2 linked regions of the Homo sapiens genome follow. The protein of the gene in region 1 interacts with the protein of each later gene in a pairwise test. Each region holds a gene or a part of one and is shown on either strand. Other genes may lie near its edges.

What was found. Proteins that work in one complex are often made in the same cells at the same time.
Region 2: the proteins of SNAP23 (region 1) and NAPB interact in binary tests that used the Homo sapiens proteins (3 or more experiments, as listed by UniProt).

The regions. Positions count from the first base shown.
Region 1 is NC_000015.10:42,526,608-42,533,559, reverse strand, and holds the end of SNAP23 (synaptosomal-associated protein 23), read right to left. Parts: intron 5,299-6,952; coding exon 5,140-5,298; exon of another isoform or gene 5,089-5,139; coding exon of another isoform or gene 5,059-5,088; intron 3,886-5,058; coding exon 3,741-3,885; intron 2,148-3,740; coding exon 2,082-2,147; 3' UTR 502-2,081; downstream 1-501. UniProt on the Homo sapiens protein: Essential component of the high affinity receptor for the general membrane fusion machinery and an important regulator of transport vesicle docking and fusion.
Region 2 is NC_000020.11:23,376,466-23,383,492, forward strand, and holds part of NAPB (beta-soluble NSF attachment protein), read right to left. Parts: intron 4,853-7,027; coding exon 4,748-4,852; intron 3,471-4,747; coding exon 3,402-3,470; intron 3,031-3,401; coding exon 2,980-3,030; intron 1,022-2,979; coding exon 911-1,021; 3' UTR 1-910. UniProt on the Homo sapiens protein: Required for vesicular transport between the endoplasmic reticulum and the Golgi apparatus.

The DNA of each region.
Region 1 (6,952 bases):
GTAAATGGTTTTAGGAAAGGCATTTAGGTAAAGCACAATCCTCCGTTTTACACCTTACTTTACATATTTACCATCCCTGCCAAACCACTCATTTTGACATGGAGCATTTCTATTACAGAGGGTGTAGTTGCATCTCACTTTATTTAAATATTTTCCTCTTTAGCCTTTGAAAGCTCCCACATTAACTGTATCTTCTCCAGTGAGTTGTAGTTCTCACACAGAACCATTACCCTTCCAGTCACTAGTGTATTTAAGCTCAAGTGAGTAAGACTAGTAATGATTAAAATGAACCTCACAATAAATTTTTAGCAAGGTAAGTTTAAGTCCCATCAATATTTTCAATAAATACTGGAAAGATGCTAAAGGCAGCTTCCTGCTGTAGTGTTTCTTGATGTATGGATCTTTGCTTTATTAATTTGTTAAATGAGAGCTGATGAAACTATTTTCCCCCAAATAACAGTCATAGAAACATGTTACCTATTTGAAAGAACAATACCATTAGTTAGTTAAAAAATTTAATTGTAAGGATCAAGCAGTGGTTATTGGTGAAACCAATACACACTGACAGCTTTGAAGTGTTCAGATGCTAATTTTAAAATAAATGTGACAAATACCAATCAGATGTTCATAACACTTTTCAGGATCCACATCAACTTGATTATGGACATAGTTCAATACACAAGGGTAAGAGAAAGAGTGTGTAATCACCAATAATTAAACCAGAGGCATAATTTTTTCAAATAATTTTTAGTTACAGAATAAATTCTAACTTTTTAAAGTCTAAAGCTACATAAAACTCAAAGCAATCTATTTTTCTACCTGAGGTCAAAATGACTTTCCTTTTTCCTAACTAAACATAATTCTTAGCATTGAGGTAAATCTGAATTCATGTGGTATGCTTTGTCAAACTTTTCCAAAAAATTTTAAGCCCTGCTTTAGAGAGAAATTCTCATGTTACACATATATATTTACATATTTTTTCTTCAAAGACTAATGACAATGTATGATGTTAATAGGCCTGTAATGGAACCATGATACTACTAATAATATGAAATAAAAAGCCACTCATTTATATAAAGTGTTCCTGAATGGTGCAATAAGAAATGGGATCACAGATTTATGTACATATATGAATCACTAAGAGTTCAGAAATTAAGCTCACTTTAAGAAAACTCAGCCAGGCACAGTGGCTCACGCCTGTAATCCCAGTACTTTGGGAGGCCAAGGCGGGTGGATCACGACGTCAGGAGTCCAAGACCAGCTTGACATGGTGAAACCCTGTCTCTACTAAAAATACAAAAATTAGCCGAGCGTGGTGACACACGCCTGTAATCCCAGCTACTCAGGAGGCAAGGCAGGAGAATTGCTTGAACCAGGGAGGCGGAGGTTGCAGTGAGCCCAGATCGCGCTATTGCACTCCAGCCTGGACAAGAGAGCGAGACTCTGACTCCAAAAAAAAAAAAAAGAAAGAAAACTCATTCTATTTTTCTCTTTGGAGCAGAGGTTGCAAAACTGTGATGCCTAACAAAAACGTTGTGTATAAAAGCTCCAAAACCAAGCATTAGCCTAAATTGGCTATAACTGCAACTTAAATCAAAAACTATATCCAACTAGATCTTCGTTGTGGCTATGCAACTTTTTGCTTTGTGGCCTGAAGGTTTTTACTGAGGTAACAACCTCTTATCTCTTGTCCTTCCCTCAACCACAAAAGCAAAAATAAACAACAACAAAAAACACCTCTACAGCTTCCTTCTTCATGGCTGTCTTTGGCAATGCTTCCAAATCTTGAAAGCAAAAGAACCTGCTGAAGTATATGAGGAGGATGAAAACACTAAACATGACATATGAAAACCAATCTAAGCGTATGAATTGAGAAAGAAAATACTAGAAGGAAGGCAGAGCAGCAGTCGGCCCTCAACAGAAAACAAAAAAGAAGGAGGGCTGTAACTGCTCTGGCCCTTCTTCCATATTATCTCCCAATTAGAAGAGCGTGGAACCGAAAACTTAAACTCTGAAAAGGTAATAACTTTCAAGGAGGAGCTACGGAAGTGAATAAATGATAAAGAAGAACAGCAGTAGCTTTAGCTGTCAATGAGTTTCTTTGCTCTGGCATTGGCAATATCAATACGATCTCTGTTGGTGTCAGCCTGAAAAACAAGAAAGATATCAGCTTTACAAGGTAAGTAACTCTAATAAAAATTAAACTTTTTACACTTGGAGTAACTGACACACCAAGAAAATCCAAGAAACCACGTGAAGTTACATTACAAAACTCATGTTGGGCAAGAAGTAACAGAATATGAAATTCATTTGGAAAACCCCTGGTATATAAACATGACAAAGGTGTAACATATAAGACCTTGCCAATATTTCATAAATTCTATAACGCATTTTTTCATAGTTTAACATGCCTGAAACTGGGATGCATCCTGTAATCAATGGCATTTTTTGATGCAATGAAATATGAAAGAGTGCTCTTCTCTGTTAAAGATCTGGACCTTGTGTGAGTCCTCTGAACTGAATCATAGAATCTCATCTGGATTCAGACACCCTAAGTCTAACCTGGAGAGACTGAAATAACCTTTCCAAAGATCTTTGAAACGAATCTATTACCATCCTCACCAACATCTGAATTAAAATGACAGGTAAATATAGCCTAAACCCAGACTGCAGCATTTAAAGCATCTTGTGAACCACTGTTTCAATTAAATCCATCAAAAGTGATTTAACAGAGAGCCAAGCTTAAAAACTCACCCTAAAGTTCACTGAGATTTTAATGAGGTATGACTTTCTTTTTTTCCTTTCTTTTTGAGAAAGGGTCTCACTCTGTTGCCCAGGCTGGAATGCAATGGTGCAATCACAGCTCACTGCAGCCTTCAACTCCTACACTCAAGCAATCCTTCTGCCTCAGCCTCCCGAGTAACTGGGACAATAGGCACATGCCACCATGCCTGGTCAATTTTTAAATTTTTTTAGTAGAGTCGAGGTCTTGCTCTGGTCTCAAACTCCTGAGCTCAAGCAATCCTCCTGCCTCCGCCTCTCAAAGTGTTGAGATTACAGGTGTGAGCTACCACGGTTGGCCAAGGTATGACTTTACATGTGACACATCAAAACACTGAAAACAATTTCGCTTTCACTATATTTATATCATGTAAAGTTAAGGGGGAAAAAAAAGAATCACAACTTTCTTTCACTCACATGACTCTATTTCGTGTGTCCACTCCATAAGAACTATTCTGCAGAACAGATTTTCACCTACGGACTCTTTCATGAGATGAGGATTCAGGAACTTAATTTATTTTTAGTTAACAAAATAGGCTGATGTGGGAGGAACGCTTTAGCCTAGGAGGCAGGCTGCAGTGAGCTGTGATTGTACCACCACACTACCCTAGGCGACAGAGCAAGACCCCATTCTCAATTAAAAAATTAGTTAACAAAATAAAACTCATTTGGGAGAGAAAAAAACACGCTCAAAAGCTAAAGTAGATACTAAGCTTCATGTGTGAAGGTTTAAGTAAAACTACTATATTCCAAAACTCTGGTTTCAAAATGCACCAACTACCATGACAGGGAGGACTTGGCTCTTGTTTTATGTGTTAGAACCACCACCTCATCAGAATTAAGACCTATGAGGACAGGAGCTTATTCTACCGTGTCCCCCACAGTATCTAGCACAGATGTCTATTACTGAAACACTGAACTGGGTGTCTCATTTTCTTGTGGCAATAAAAAGCTTTTACCTTGTCTGTGATTCGTTTTATTTGTGGATTTTGAGCATCAATCTCATTGCCTATGTTCAGGGCCATGTCTTTTAGATTTCCCAGGATACTGCCCACTTGAGTCAGGTTCTCTTCCATTTCATCTTCTCTGGCATCATTAGTTATGCTATCACAAGAAGACAGTTAATTCCATAGGTTTTGTTGAATTTAAATAAAAGTCTGGATTTACTTTTCACAAAAGTAAGTAACCAAAATGACTCTCAGCAAGTATAAGATCCAAAAGAATATAGGTTACCATTCCTGGGAAACATTCTATAATAAAAACTGGGAGACTCATCAAAGAGAGCACAGTATCTTAAAGCCATGTAAGAAAAGAAAGAAACTCTGAAACAGTGTTTCTCAAAGCTTAATTCCCAGCATCACCTGGGAAGCTGTTAGACATGAGAATGCTAATTCTCACACTCCATTCCAGACCTACTCAATCAGAAACTGTAAGTGCATCCCAGAAACCTACGGTTTAATAAGCCCCTCAAGTGGTTCTAATGCACAGTTAAGTCTATCTAAAGAAGCACTGCCCTAAGAGAGAGGTTGGAAAACTACGGCCCAAGGACCAAATCTGGCCACCATATGATTTTGTAAATCAAGTGTTATTCAAACACAGCTGTGCTCATTTGTTTACATATTGTTTATGCCTGCTTTAACCCTACAACAGAGTTGAGTAATTGCAAGGGACTGTATGGCCTGAAAAGTCTGAAATATTAACTCTCTGGCTCGTTACAGATCTTCTTACAGGAATCTAGCTGACCCTTGTTCTAGATGACACATTTTAAAACCTATTTTTTTCTATATATAAAAGTAAAATATGTCTAGTTCAATAATTTGGAAAGTACTGAAAAGTATAAAGAAAAGTTAATTCCATCACCCAAGGTCAACCACCACAGTCAACATTTTGTCTGGCCAGGTGTGGTAGCTTATGCCTGTAATCCCAGCACTTTGGGAGGCCGAGGCAGGTGGATCACCTGAGGTCAGGAGTCCAAGACCAGCCTGGTCAACATGGTGAAACCCTGTCTCTACTAAAAATACAAAAATTAGCTGGGCGTGGTGGCGCACACCTGTAGTCCCAGCTACTCGGAAGGCTGAGGCAGGAGAATAACTTGAACCTGGGAGGCAGAGGTTGCAGTGAGCTGAGATCACGCCACTGCACTCCAGCCTGGGCAACACAGCAAGACTCTGTCTCAAAACAAAACAACAAATAAAAAAAACCCACATTTTGTCAGTGGGCAGATTTTTAAATGCATTTTAAAAATGGAATAAATACAATTTTTATTTGTTTTATTAGGGGTCATGTACTGCTAAACTCATCTCCTAAGTGAACCATTCATTAAGAAAGGTACAGGAATATCAGGAGGAGTTGGCATACCGTTTAATGTATCCACCACTGGCTGCTCCCGTTGTTGGTTGCTGAAGCTGACCATTTGTCACCGGGCCTGGCTGTTTAGATACTACATTGCAAGGTGAGTTTTCTCCACCATCTCCCCATGTTGTCTTATAAGCCTTGCCAGACTCAAAGTTCTTTGTTCTATATAAGAGTCAGGAGTGTAGGGAGATACCAAAAAAAAGAAGACGGAGAGTTCTAATTATTAGTGCCTGTTACCTTGAGGATGACACTAATAACTCTAGTAGAAAAGCTGCATACAGCTAAGTCTAGATGATCTACACTATGCTCCATGGCAATATGGAATAGGAAATAGATGAATTATGTAAACCCATTGACACTAAAAAAAATTTTAAAAAGGTCCAAATACTACTTCTACCAAATCTTCACTAGGCTGTTAGCAAGTAGCAAAAGGCAACTATTTGATTTTTCAGGTTCCCTTAGCCTCTGGCACTATCGTTTTGCTTTTCTCTTCCTAGTGTATCCAGCACTATCTAGAAAAGAGGTTAATGCACATTACTTAAAAAAAGGTCCCTTAGAAAAGGTGTTCTGGGATACCTTAAGAGGTTCCTTGAAGGCATCTCAGAGGTTGACAAGGGATGACAGAATAAGAAGGCTGATGCTGGGTGCAGTGGCTCACGCCTGTACTCCCAGCACTTTGGGAGGCCAAGGCGGGTGGATCGCTTGAGCTCAGGAGTTTAAGATCAGCCAGGGCAACACAGCAAAAACCCATCTCTCAAACTCCTGACCTCAAGTGATCCATCCACCTCGGCCTCCCAAAGTGCTGGGACTACAGGCTCGTGAGCCACTGCTCCCTGCCTCAAAATGCCATCTCTATAAAAAAATACAAACATTAGCTGGGTGTGGTGGCACACGCCTGTGGTCCCAGCTACTCGAGAGGCTGAGGTGGGAGGACTGCTTGAGCCCAGAAGGTCGAGGCTGCAGTGAGCCATGATAGTGCCACTGCACTCCAGCCTGGGTGACAGAGTGAGACCTAATCTTAAATAAATAAATAAAATTTTAAAATAAGAAGACTGAATTTGAACCAGCGTAGTTCCAGCTGATCAGTTTTTATTAGAATTTTCCATGAAATTTTAAACAATGGTTTCTTACAAACAAACCAGCCATCAGGAAAGAAAGGCATGAATAATTTCCAAATTGGACAATCAGCGGACAAATAAGTACCTTGACCACACAAGCGGTCATTCATAAATCCTGTAGTGTAGGAGTTTTTCATTTAAGAGTTTCCTCTTTAAAAAAACGATCAAGGCCGGGCACAGTAGCTCACACCGGTAATCCCAGCACTTTGGGAGGCCAAGGTGGGTGGATCACCTGAGGTCAGGAGTTCAAGACCAGCCTGGGCAACATGGTGAAACCCCATCTCTACTAAAAATACAAAAATTAGCTGGGTGTGGCACCACGTGCCTATAATCCCAGCTACTGGGGAGGCTGAGGCAGGAGAATCGCTTGAACCCAGGAGGCGGAGGTTGCAAGGAGCCAAGATCACACCACTGCACTCCAGCCTGGGCAACAGAGCGAGACACTCCATCTCAAAAAAAAAAAAAAATCATAAGTCTAAGTGTCTTAAAAAGAAAGAAAAAGTGGCTATTACAGGGAAAAAAAAATGGCTGTTACGGAAAAGTGACACAAAACTTTTCTTGATTATTTGGCTAAAGTCAAGCTTTCATTCAATTTTAGTTTTCACTTTTCTATAAACAAAAACGAAATAGTATGTTGCTCAAATATTGATCTCTGATTTATTCTACATTTTACATTAATAAGGAAGTTTTAAAATTGC
Region 2 (7,027 bases), on another chromosome or scaffold:
AGATAATCTATCCAGCCCTGACCAAGATTTCTATAGTCACAGCACAGAACACACCACCTCAACGTGGGAAAGTGTATAAACATGAAAATAATGAGCAGGCTATGCCAATTAAAATACTTCAATGTAAATATAAAGGGATTTCCACTCCAACTAAAAGTGAAAACTATCTCCAGAAAAAGAGAAAAATTCCATTTCTAACAGATCTTGTGATATGTGTGTGTGTGTAAACGCGTGTGTCTAAGTACAAATCAAATTCACTTTGACACTCATCCATACATGAAGCAAGTACTTCCAGAAAGCTCCCTTCCTCACAATGTGATGCCTACAGACCCTGGCTATTCTAAATTTTTGCCATGCACATGTTAGCATACGGAACAACACAAAAAGCAAAGAAACTAGTCACTAGCACCATCAAAATAATCACAGGATAACAAAAATAGAAATGATTTCTAATGAAGTTATAAACTCATTCCTAGTAACTGTCCTAAACTAAACACACATTTAAAGAACATATTCAGATGCCAAAGCACAGAGAAAATGCAAAGCATCTATGAGAACAACTGGGCTGAGTACTCAAGTCCAACAAAAAGGACATAAAAACACGTGGCAACATTAAACATAGGCTCCACAAATACCAATGAAATATGAGGAATGAGATTCTGAAGTACTTCTCAGAAAACGCTGGGGGTTCTGATAAGCATGAAACAACCCATCATTACCACAAGATGAACAGGAGCCTCTCCTTCATTCATTTCACAGCAACACAGACTTGGCGAGCTTAAACAATACACAGGCCGTCTGGCTCATATGCAACAAAATTAAGCCATTAAATAGGCATCCCATAAAGATCACTTGACCCTAAGACAAAACTAAAGAGGAGTTAGCTGCATGCCACAAAGACAAAAACATTTCATTTTAGGTCTCCATCTCCTTCTCCATCCCCTTGGATGGACTTTTTGATGCGAAGCAACATGGTGGTCAGCCACTGATCCAAGCGAGATATTGAGTCAAATTCCTTCACCTAGTATAAGGAAAGAGGAACAGGAATTACCCCATGTAAATACATTAAAAACACAAAATAATAGTACCCCAAGCTGTTTATACCTTTACAGCCATAATCTACTAACTTTCTTCATCATTTGAAATTAATCATTCCAGTTTATAACTTTCTTCATTAAAAAATTGTTTATTTTTTCATTATCCTGTTACTATTTTGATACTAGTGACAAGTTCCTGGGCTTGACATTTCTCTGTTTTCAAACGTGTAAGAAAAAAATTCATTAACAGTCATAATTATTGTGGCAAAAGTAACTGGATATTGTATAAAAATTTGAAAGGAATATGGAAAATTAATACTCACTGAACATGGGAAAACATTAATTACAGAGTTAGAATATGTATGGAAGCGGAATTAACACATTTCAATGCATTACCCAAAAATAAAATTACAATAGGATGAAAATGATGTGGTAGGCAAAAGTCAGACAGGAAAACATTCCTTTCCTCTATCACTCCTGAGCTGTGATGAACATGTTACAGGAGGCTACTGAGAAATTTGCTTGAGGCTGGATGTAGTGGCTCATGCCTGTAATCCTTGAAGTCTGGGAGGCCAAGGCAGGTGGATAGCTTAAGCCCAGGAGTTAAGAGACCAGCCTGGGCAACATGGTGAAACCTTGTCTCAACAAAAAATGCAAAAAAAAAAAAAAAAATTAGCTGGGGGTGGTGGTGTGCACCTGTAGTCCCAGGTACTTAGGAGTCTCAGGTGGGAGGATCACCTGAACCCAGGAGGTTGAGGGTGCAGTGAGCCGTGATCACACCACAGCACTCCAGCCTGAGTGACAGAGTGAGGATCTGTTTCAAAATATATAAAAACATTTTTTTTTGCTTGATTCTAAACATGAGATGGCAAAAGATGGAAAAACAAAAAGTATAAAGAAAAAAACCCTCATATTTTTAATATATATATATATTTATTATTTATTTATTTATTTTTGAGATGGAGTTTCACTCTTGTTGCCCAGGCTGGAATGCAATGGCGTGATCTTGGCTCACTGCAACCTCCACCTCCTGGGTTCAAGAGATTCTCCTGCCTCAGCCTCCCGAGTAGCTGGTATTACAGGCACACTCCACCATGCCTGGCTAATTTTTGTATTTTTAGTAAAGATGGTGTTTTGCCATGTTGGCCAAGCTGGTCTCAAACTCCTGATCTCAGGTGATCCACCCGCCTTGGCCTCCCAAAGTGCTAGGATTATAGGTGTGAGCCACCGTGCCTGGCCACCTTCCATTTATTTCATGCCACAAATACAGCAAATTCTCACTACTTAGTTTTTATATTTTAAATTATATTTAATTTTTTTTTTCTTTTTTTTTTTGAGACAGAGTCTCGCTCTGTCACCAGGCTGGAGTGCAGTGGTGCAATCTCAGCTCACTGCAACCTCTGCCTCCCGGGTTCAAGCGATTCTCCTGCCTCAGCCTCCCGAGTAGCTGGGACTACAGGCGTGTGCCAGCATGCCTGGCTAATTTTTATATTTTTAGTAGAGACGGGGTTTCACCATGTTGGCGAGGATGGTCTCAATTTCCTGACTCATGATCTGCCTGCCTCGGCCTCCGAAAGTGCCAGGATTACAGGTGTGAGACGCCGTGCCTGGCCTTAACTAATTTTACTTTATACTTATTTATGGGTCAGATTATTTTCAAAAGAAAAAATTAAAACAGCAAATTATAAGAATATAAATGGAATATTTGCTCCTGAACTAGTCTCACAGCTAAATTAGTTTTGAGTGTAAGTCGAATCTCAGCATGGCTAATGGAACTGTTTAATTTGTGTGATATATAAAAGGTGACGTTTGGAAAATACAACTTAAGGTATGCTGGAGTCATGTTCAAATAAATGTTTAGAATTCACATAATGAAAAGGAAAAGAAGTTTCTTTAACTTAAATCTTCAAATAATGTACCATGTCCCAAAAGCATAACTTACTGCTTCAGTGTAAGCTTCACTGTTCTGTTCTTCATGAGCTTCTAGGAGTTTCTGGTAGCATAAAAATATTTTAAAAAACAGTTCTGTAAGATGAAGTCCCATTTCTAAATATATACTTTAAGTATAATACCAATGTTGCCAAATATTGCACAAAACTGAGGAAATACTCATATACAAGTCAAGAGCCAAGTTAGGGATCTAGCTTCTGTAGTAACATTTCTCAGGTGCCTATTTCAGAACACAACTACATGTTTCTGACCTTAATTGCATTTGAACACCTATAATACGAAAGCAGGAAAGTACCAGGGCCCCTCAGTTAGCAGACTTTATAGATTAAAACTTCACTTCATACCCAATCCCACTTAGGTGTTGTCACCTAACAGAACAAAAGCATTTTTCTTCAAAGTTCTAATATTACTTACTTTCAATAATTTACATTCTCTTGAATCAGTAAATGCTGGAAACATTTCCTCATATTTCTCAAGAGCAAGCTGAGAGAGAAAAACCACTCATCAATTTCAGACTTACTAAACAAACAAAGCTTTCAACATTCTATCAGCTTCAAATAAGATCTACCTATATCCTATTAAGTGTTGAAAAAGTATGTAGTTAAACTCAAAAGCAGAATCAACATAGAAAATCTTTCTATTCTGAATTTTCCATTTCAATAAAGAATAATTTCTAAACTACTTTTTTCTGAGTTAGGCTGCTGCTGAGAAGACATTGTAAATGAAAATGAATTCTTAAACACTCACAGACCAGGTATCTGTATCCATCCATTAAATGGAGACGTTCTTAATACAGTCCAGATTCCAAATAAATTACATTTAGCTTCCTGCTCGAAGCTGACAGAAAGAACAGTTTCTCTTACTGGCTTTAGTTCTGCTCTTCCAACTCCAGACACTGGCCATGCCAAGGCTGCCTGTCTTTTTGCCTCTTGGCTCCCAGTGCTCACTGTGCTTTTCAACTTCTTCCCAGTCCTCACTCCAACACCATTTCTGAGCTTGCCTGTTGTTTTGGTTGTTTTTTAAATGGATATTATCCTACTCTTATTGTCTCCTCCCTTAGTTCCTTAATTTCTTTCTTTTTTTTTTTTGAGACGGACTCTTACTCTGTCACCCAGGCTGGAGTGCAGTGGTGCGATCTCAGCTCACTGCAACCTCTGCCTCACAGGTTCAAGTGATTCTCCTGCCTCAGCCTCTCAAGTAGCTGGACTTACAGGCACCCGCCACCACACCCAGCTAATTTTTTTATATTTTTAGTAGAAACGGGGTTTCACCATTTTGACCAGGCTGGTCTCAAACTCCTGACCTCAGGTGCTCCACCCCACTTGGCCTCCCAAAATGCTGGGTTTACAGATGTGAGCCACCACGCCTGGCCCCCTTAATTTCTTTAAAGCAAAACTACTGAAAAAAAAATGGTGGCTACCAGTGAACATATACATATATTTAAGCCTATAGCACTAAATATTCCCAGGCAGTGCCCCCCATTCAAGTACCAGGCTCTACACTGCTTAGCTTCTGAGATCAGACGAGATTGGGTGTGTTCAGGGTGGTATGGCTATAAACTATCAGGTAACTTTTGAGAACAGCTTTGACAGCTGTTAAAAGATTACAACTGGGACACATACCACAGAATAATACTTATTTTTAATGTACCCGTTTATTCTTGGTACTAACATCAAAATGAAATGATACCAAGAACAAGAGAGAATGTGTACGTATTCTTATGGGTGAAATCAGTCAATCAATGCTGAAGAACTCCTTACCTTGGCATTCAACTCGTCTACTATGAAGTGGCAGAGGGCAGCTTTGAAGAAGTAATCCTTTGCACTGTATTTCAACAAAGGATTATCCATTGTGTTTGCCCCAACCTAGGCACAGAACGCAGAGTTAAATTTAAAAGATTTACCCTCTTATATCAGGCAAAGTCATTCTCATCTGTTGTCCTTTAGAAAATAATTATGTATCTTATGTTTGTTTAGCTATGAAATATATTATTTTATCCGAATACCATATAGTAGAAATTTTACTAGACAAGACCATTAAATACATGAAGTCTTAACCAGTTAAAAATAGCTCAGAAGAATTCTGCTTCCAATAAGATGGAGTAAACATCCTTTCCCCTAATCCTCCCACTAAGCACTACTAAAAGCCCAGGTCATTTTCTAAAAAACAAACGTTTCCCAAGGGAAAACGTGGTAGTGGGTTCCCTCAGTTTTCTTTTCCCTTCCTATATCCATGGCATGAAACTGAAGAACCAGCAACCCAGAAATGCCAGTATGCACAGATAAAAAGAGAAGAGACAAAAGCCTGCTCTCTCTGGCCAAAGGACTAGAAAAGGGGCAGCCCAGCAAGAGAGAAAACACTTAGACAATAACTGCTCTACTCCAGCCAAATATCACAGAAAAACTGAGGCCCTAACTCCATTTACATCATCAAAGGCTGAAGAAGGAGTCCTAAAGTCCATTCTTGAAAGACTGTAAGAAGCACCCCAATACCTCTGCTTAGGAGCTTCAGAGAAGGCCAAATAGGGAGCTGAGGCTTGATCCCCACCCAACCCCCTGACACTAAGGCAGTGCAGACCACACTGGGAGCCTGCATCCTGTCTCTGTCAAGCAGGAAAGAGGTTCCCCTTCTTTCTCCAGCTGGTGTGCTGTCAGAAGAGGTCTAGTGGAGGGTGAAGACTCTCACCATACCAAGAACAAACCAGCACTGTGCTGGCAGAAACAGATAAGGAGAGGGGATGCCACTTCTGCCCAGGGCTGACTAGGCCCCTCAGGTGTCAACAGAGACCTGGTGGAAAGCTGACACTTCTACCTCCACCTGGCAGTAATGAGGTAACATCCCCACCTTCCCCAGCCAGAGGAATGTCAAAGAAGGCCAACTGAAAAGAGAACGTTTAAACAAGACCCAGTCTCATAACCTAATGTGCAAATGCCCTGTTTTCAATCAGAAATGACTTGTAATACCAAAAACACAGGAAGATCTCAAGCTAAATGAAAAAAGACCATTAACAGATGATGGTTCCAGATGACGGAAATGTCCAAAATATCCCACGAAGATTTTAAAGAAGCCCTCATAAAAATGCTCCAAAAAGCAAGTACAATAACACCTGAAGCTAATGGAAAAATGGAAAGCATCCACAAAGAAAAAGGAAGCCACAGGAAAAAAGATATAAAGTAAAAACAAATAAAAATTTCAGAACTGAAAAAAAAAAACAGTACCATACATAAAAAGTGGGTGGGCTCAACAGCAGGATGAAAGGGACAGAGGAAAGAAGCACTAAATGGAAGACAACAACAGGAACAACAGAGAGAAGACAAACTGACAAAAAGGAACAGAGCATCAAGGACCCATGGGATAATAAAACAGTCTCACTTTTGTGGCATCTGTGTTCTAGAAGGGGAGGAGAAAGAGAAAAGGGCTGGCTGGGCATGGTGGCTCACGCCTGTAATCCCAGCACTGTGGGAGGCCAAGGCAGGCGAACCACTTGAGGTCAAGAGTTCAAGACCAGCCTGGTCAACATGGCGAAACCTTGTCTGTACTAAAAATACAAAAATTAGCCAGGTGTGGTGGCAAGCACCTGTAGTCCCAGCTACTTGGGAGGCTGAGACAGGAGAATTGCTTGAACCTGGGAGGCAAAGGTTGCAGTGAGACAAGATTGCGCCATTAAACTGGCACGCCTGGGCGACAGAGCAAGACTCGGTCTCAAAAAAAAAAAAAAAAAAAAAAAGGAAGCTGAAAAAGTACTTGAAGAAATAACTGCTAAATGATTCTCAAATTTGACAAGAAACATAAACCTACAGATTCTGTAAGTTTAGGGAAACTCAAATAGCTTAAAACCAAATATATCTATCCAAGCCACATTATAATTAAACTTTTGAAACTAAAAGAAAAAAATTATGAAAGTGTCTAGAGAATAACACCTTTTTTATAGGGGAAAACAAGTTGAATGACAGCAGACTTCTTATCAAAAACAATGGAGGCCGACTAGGCGTTGTGGCTCATGCCTGTAATCCCAGCACTTTGGGAGGCTGAGGTGGGTG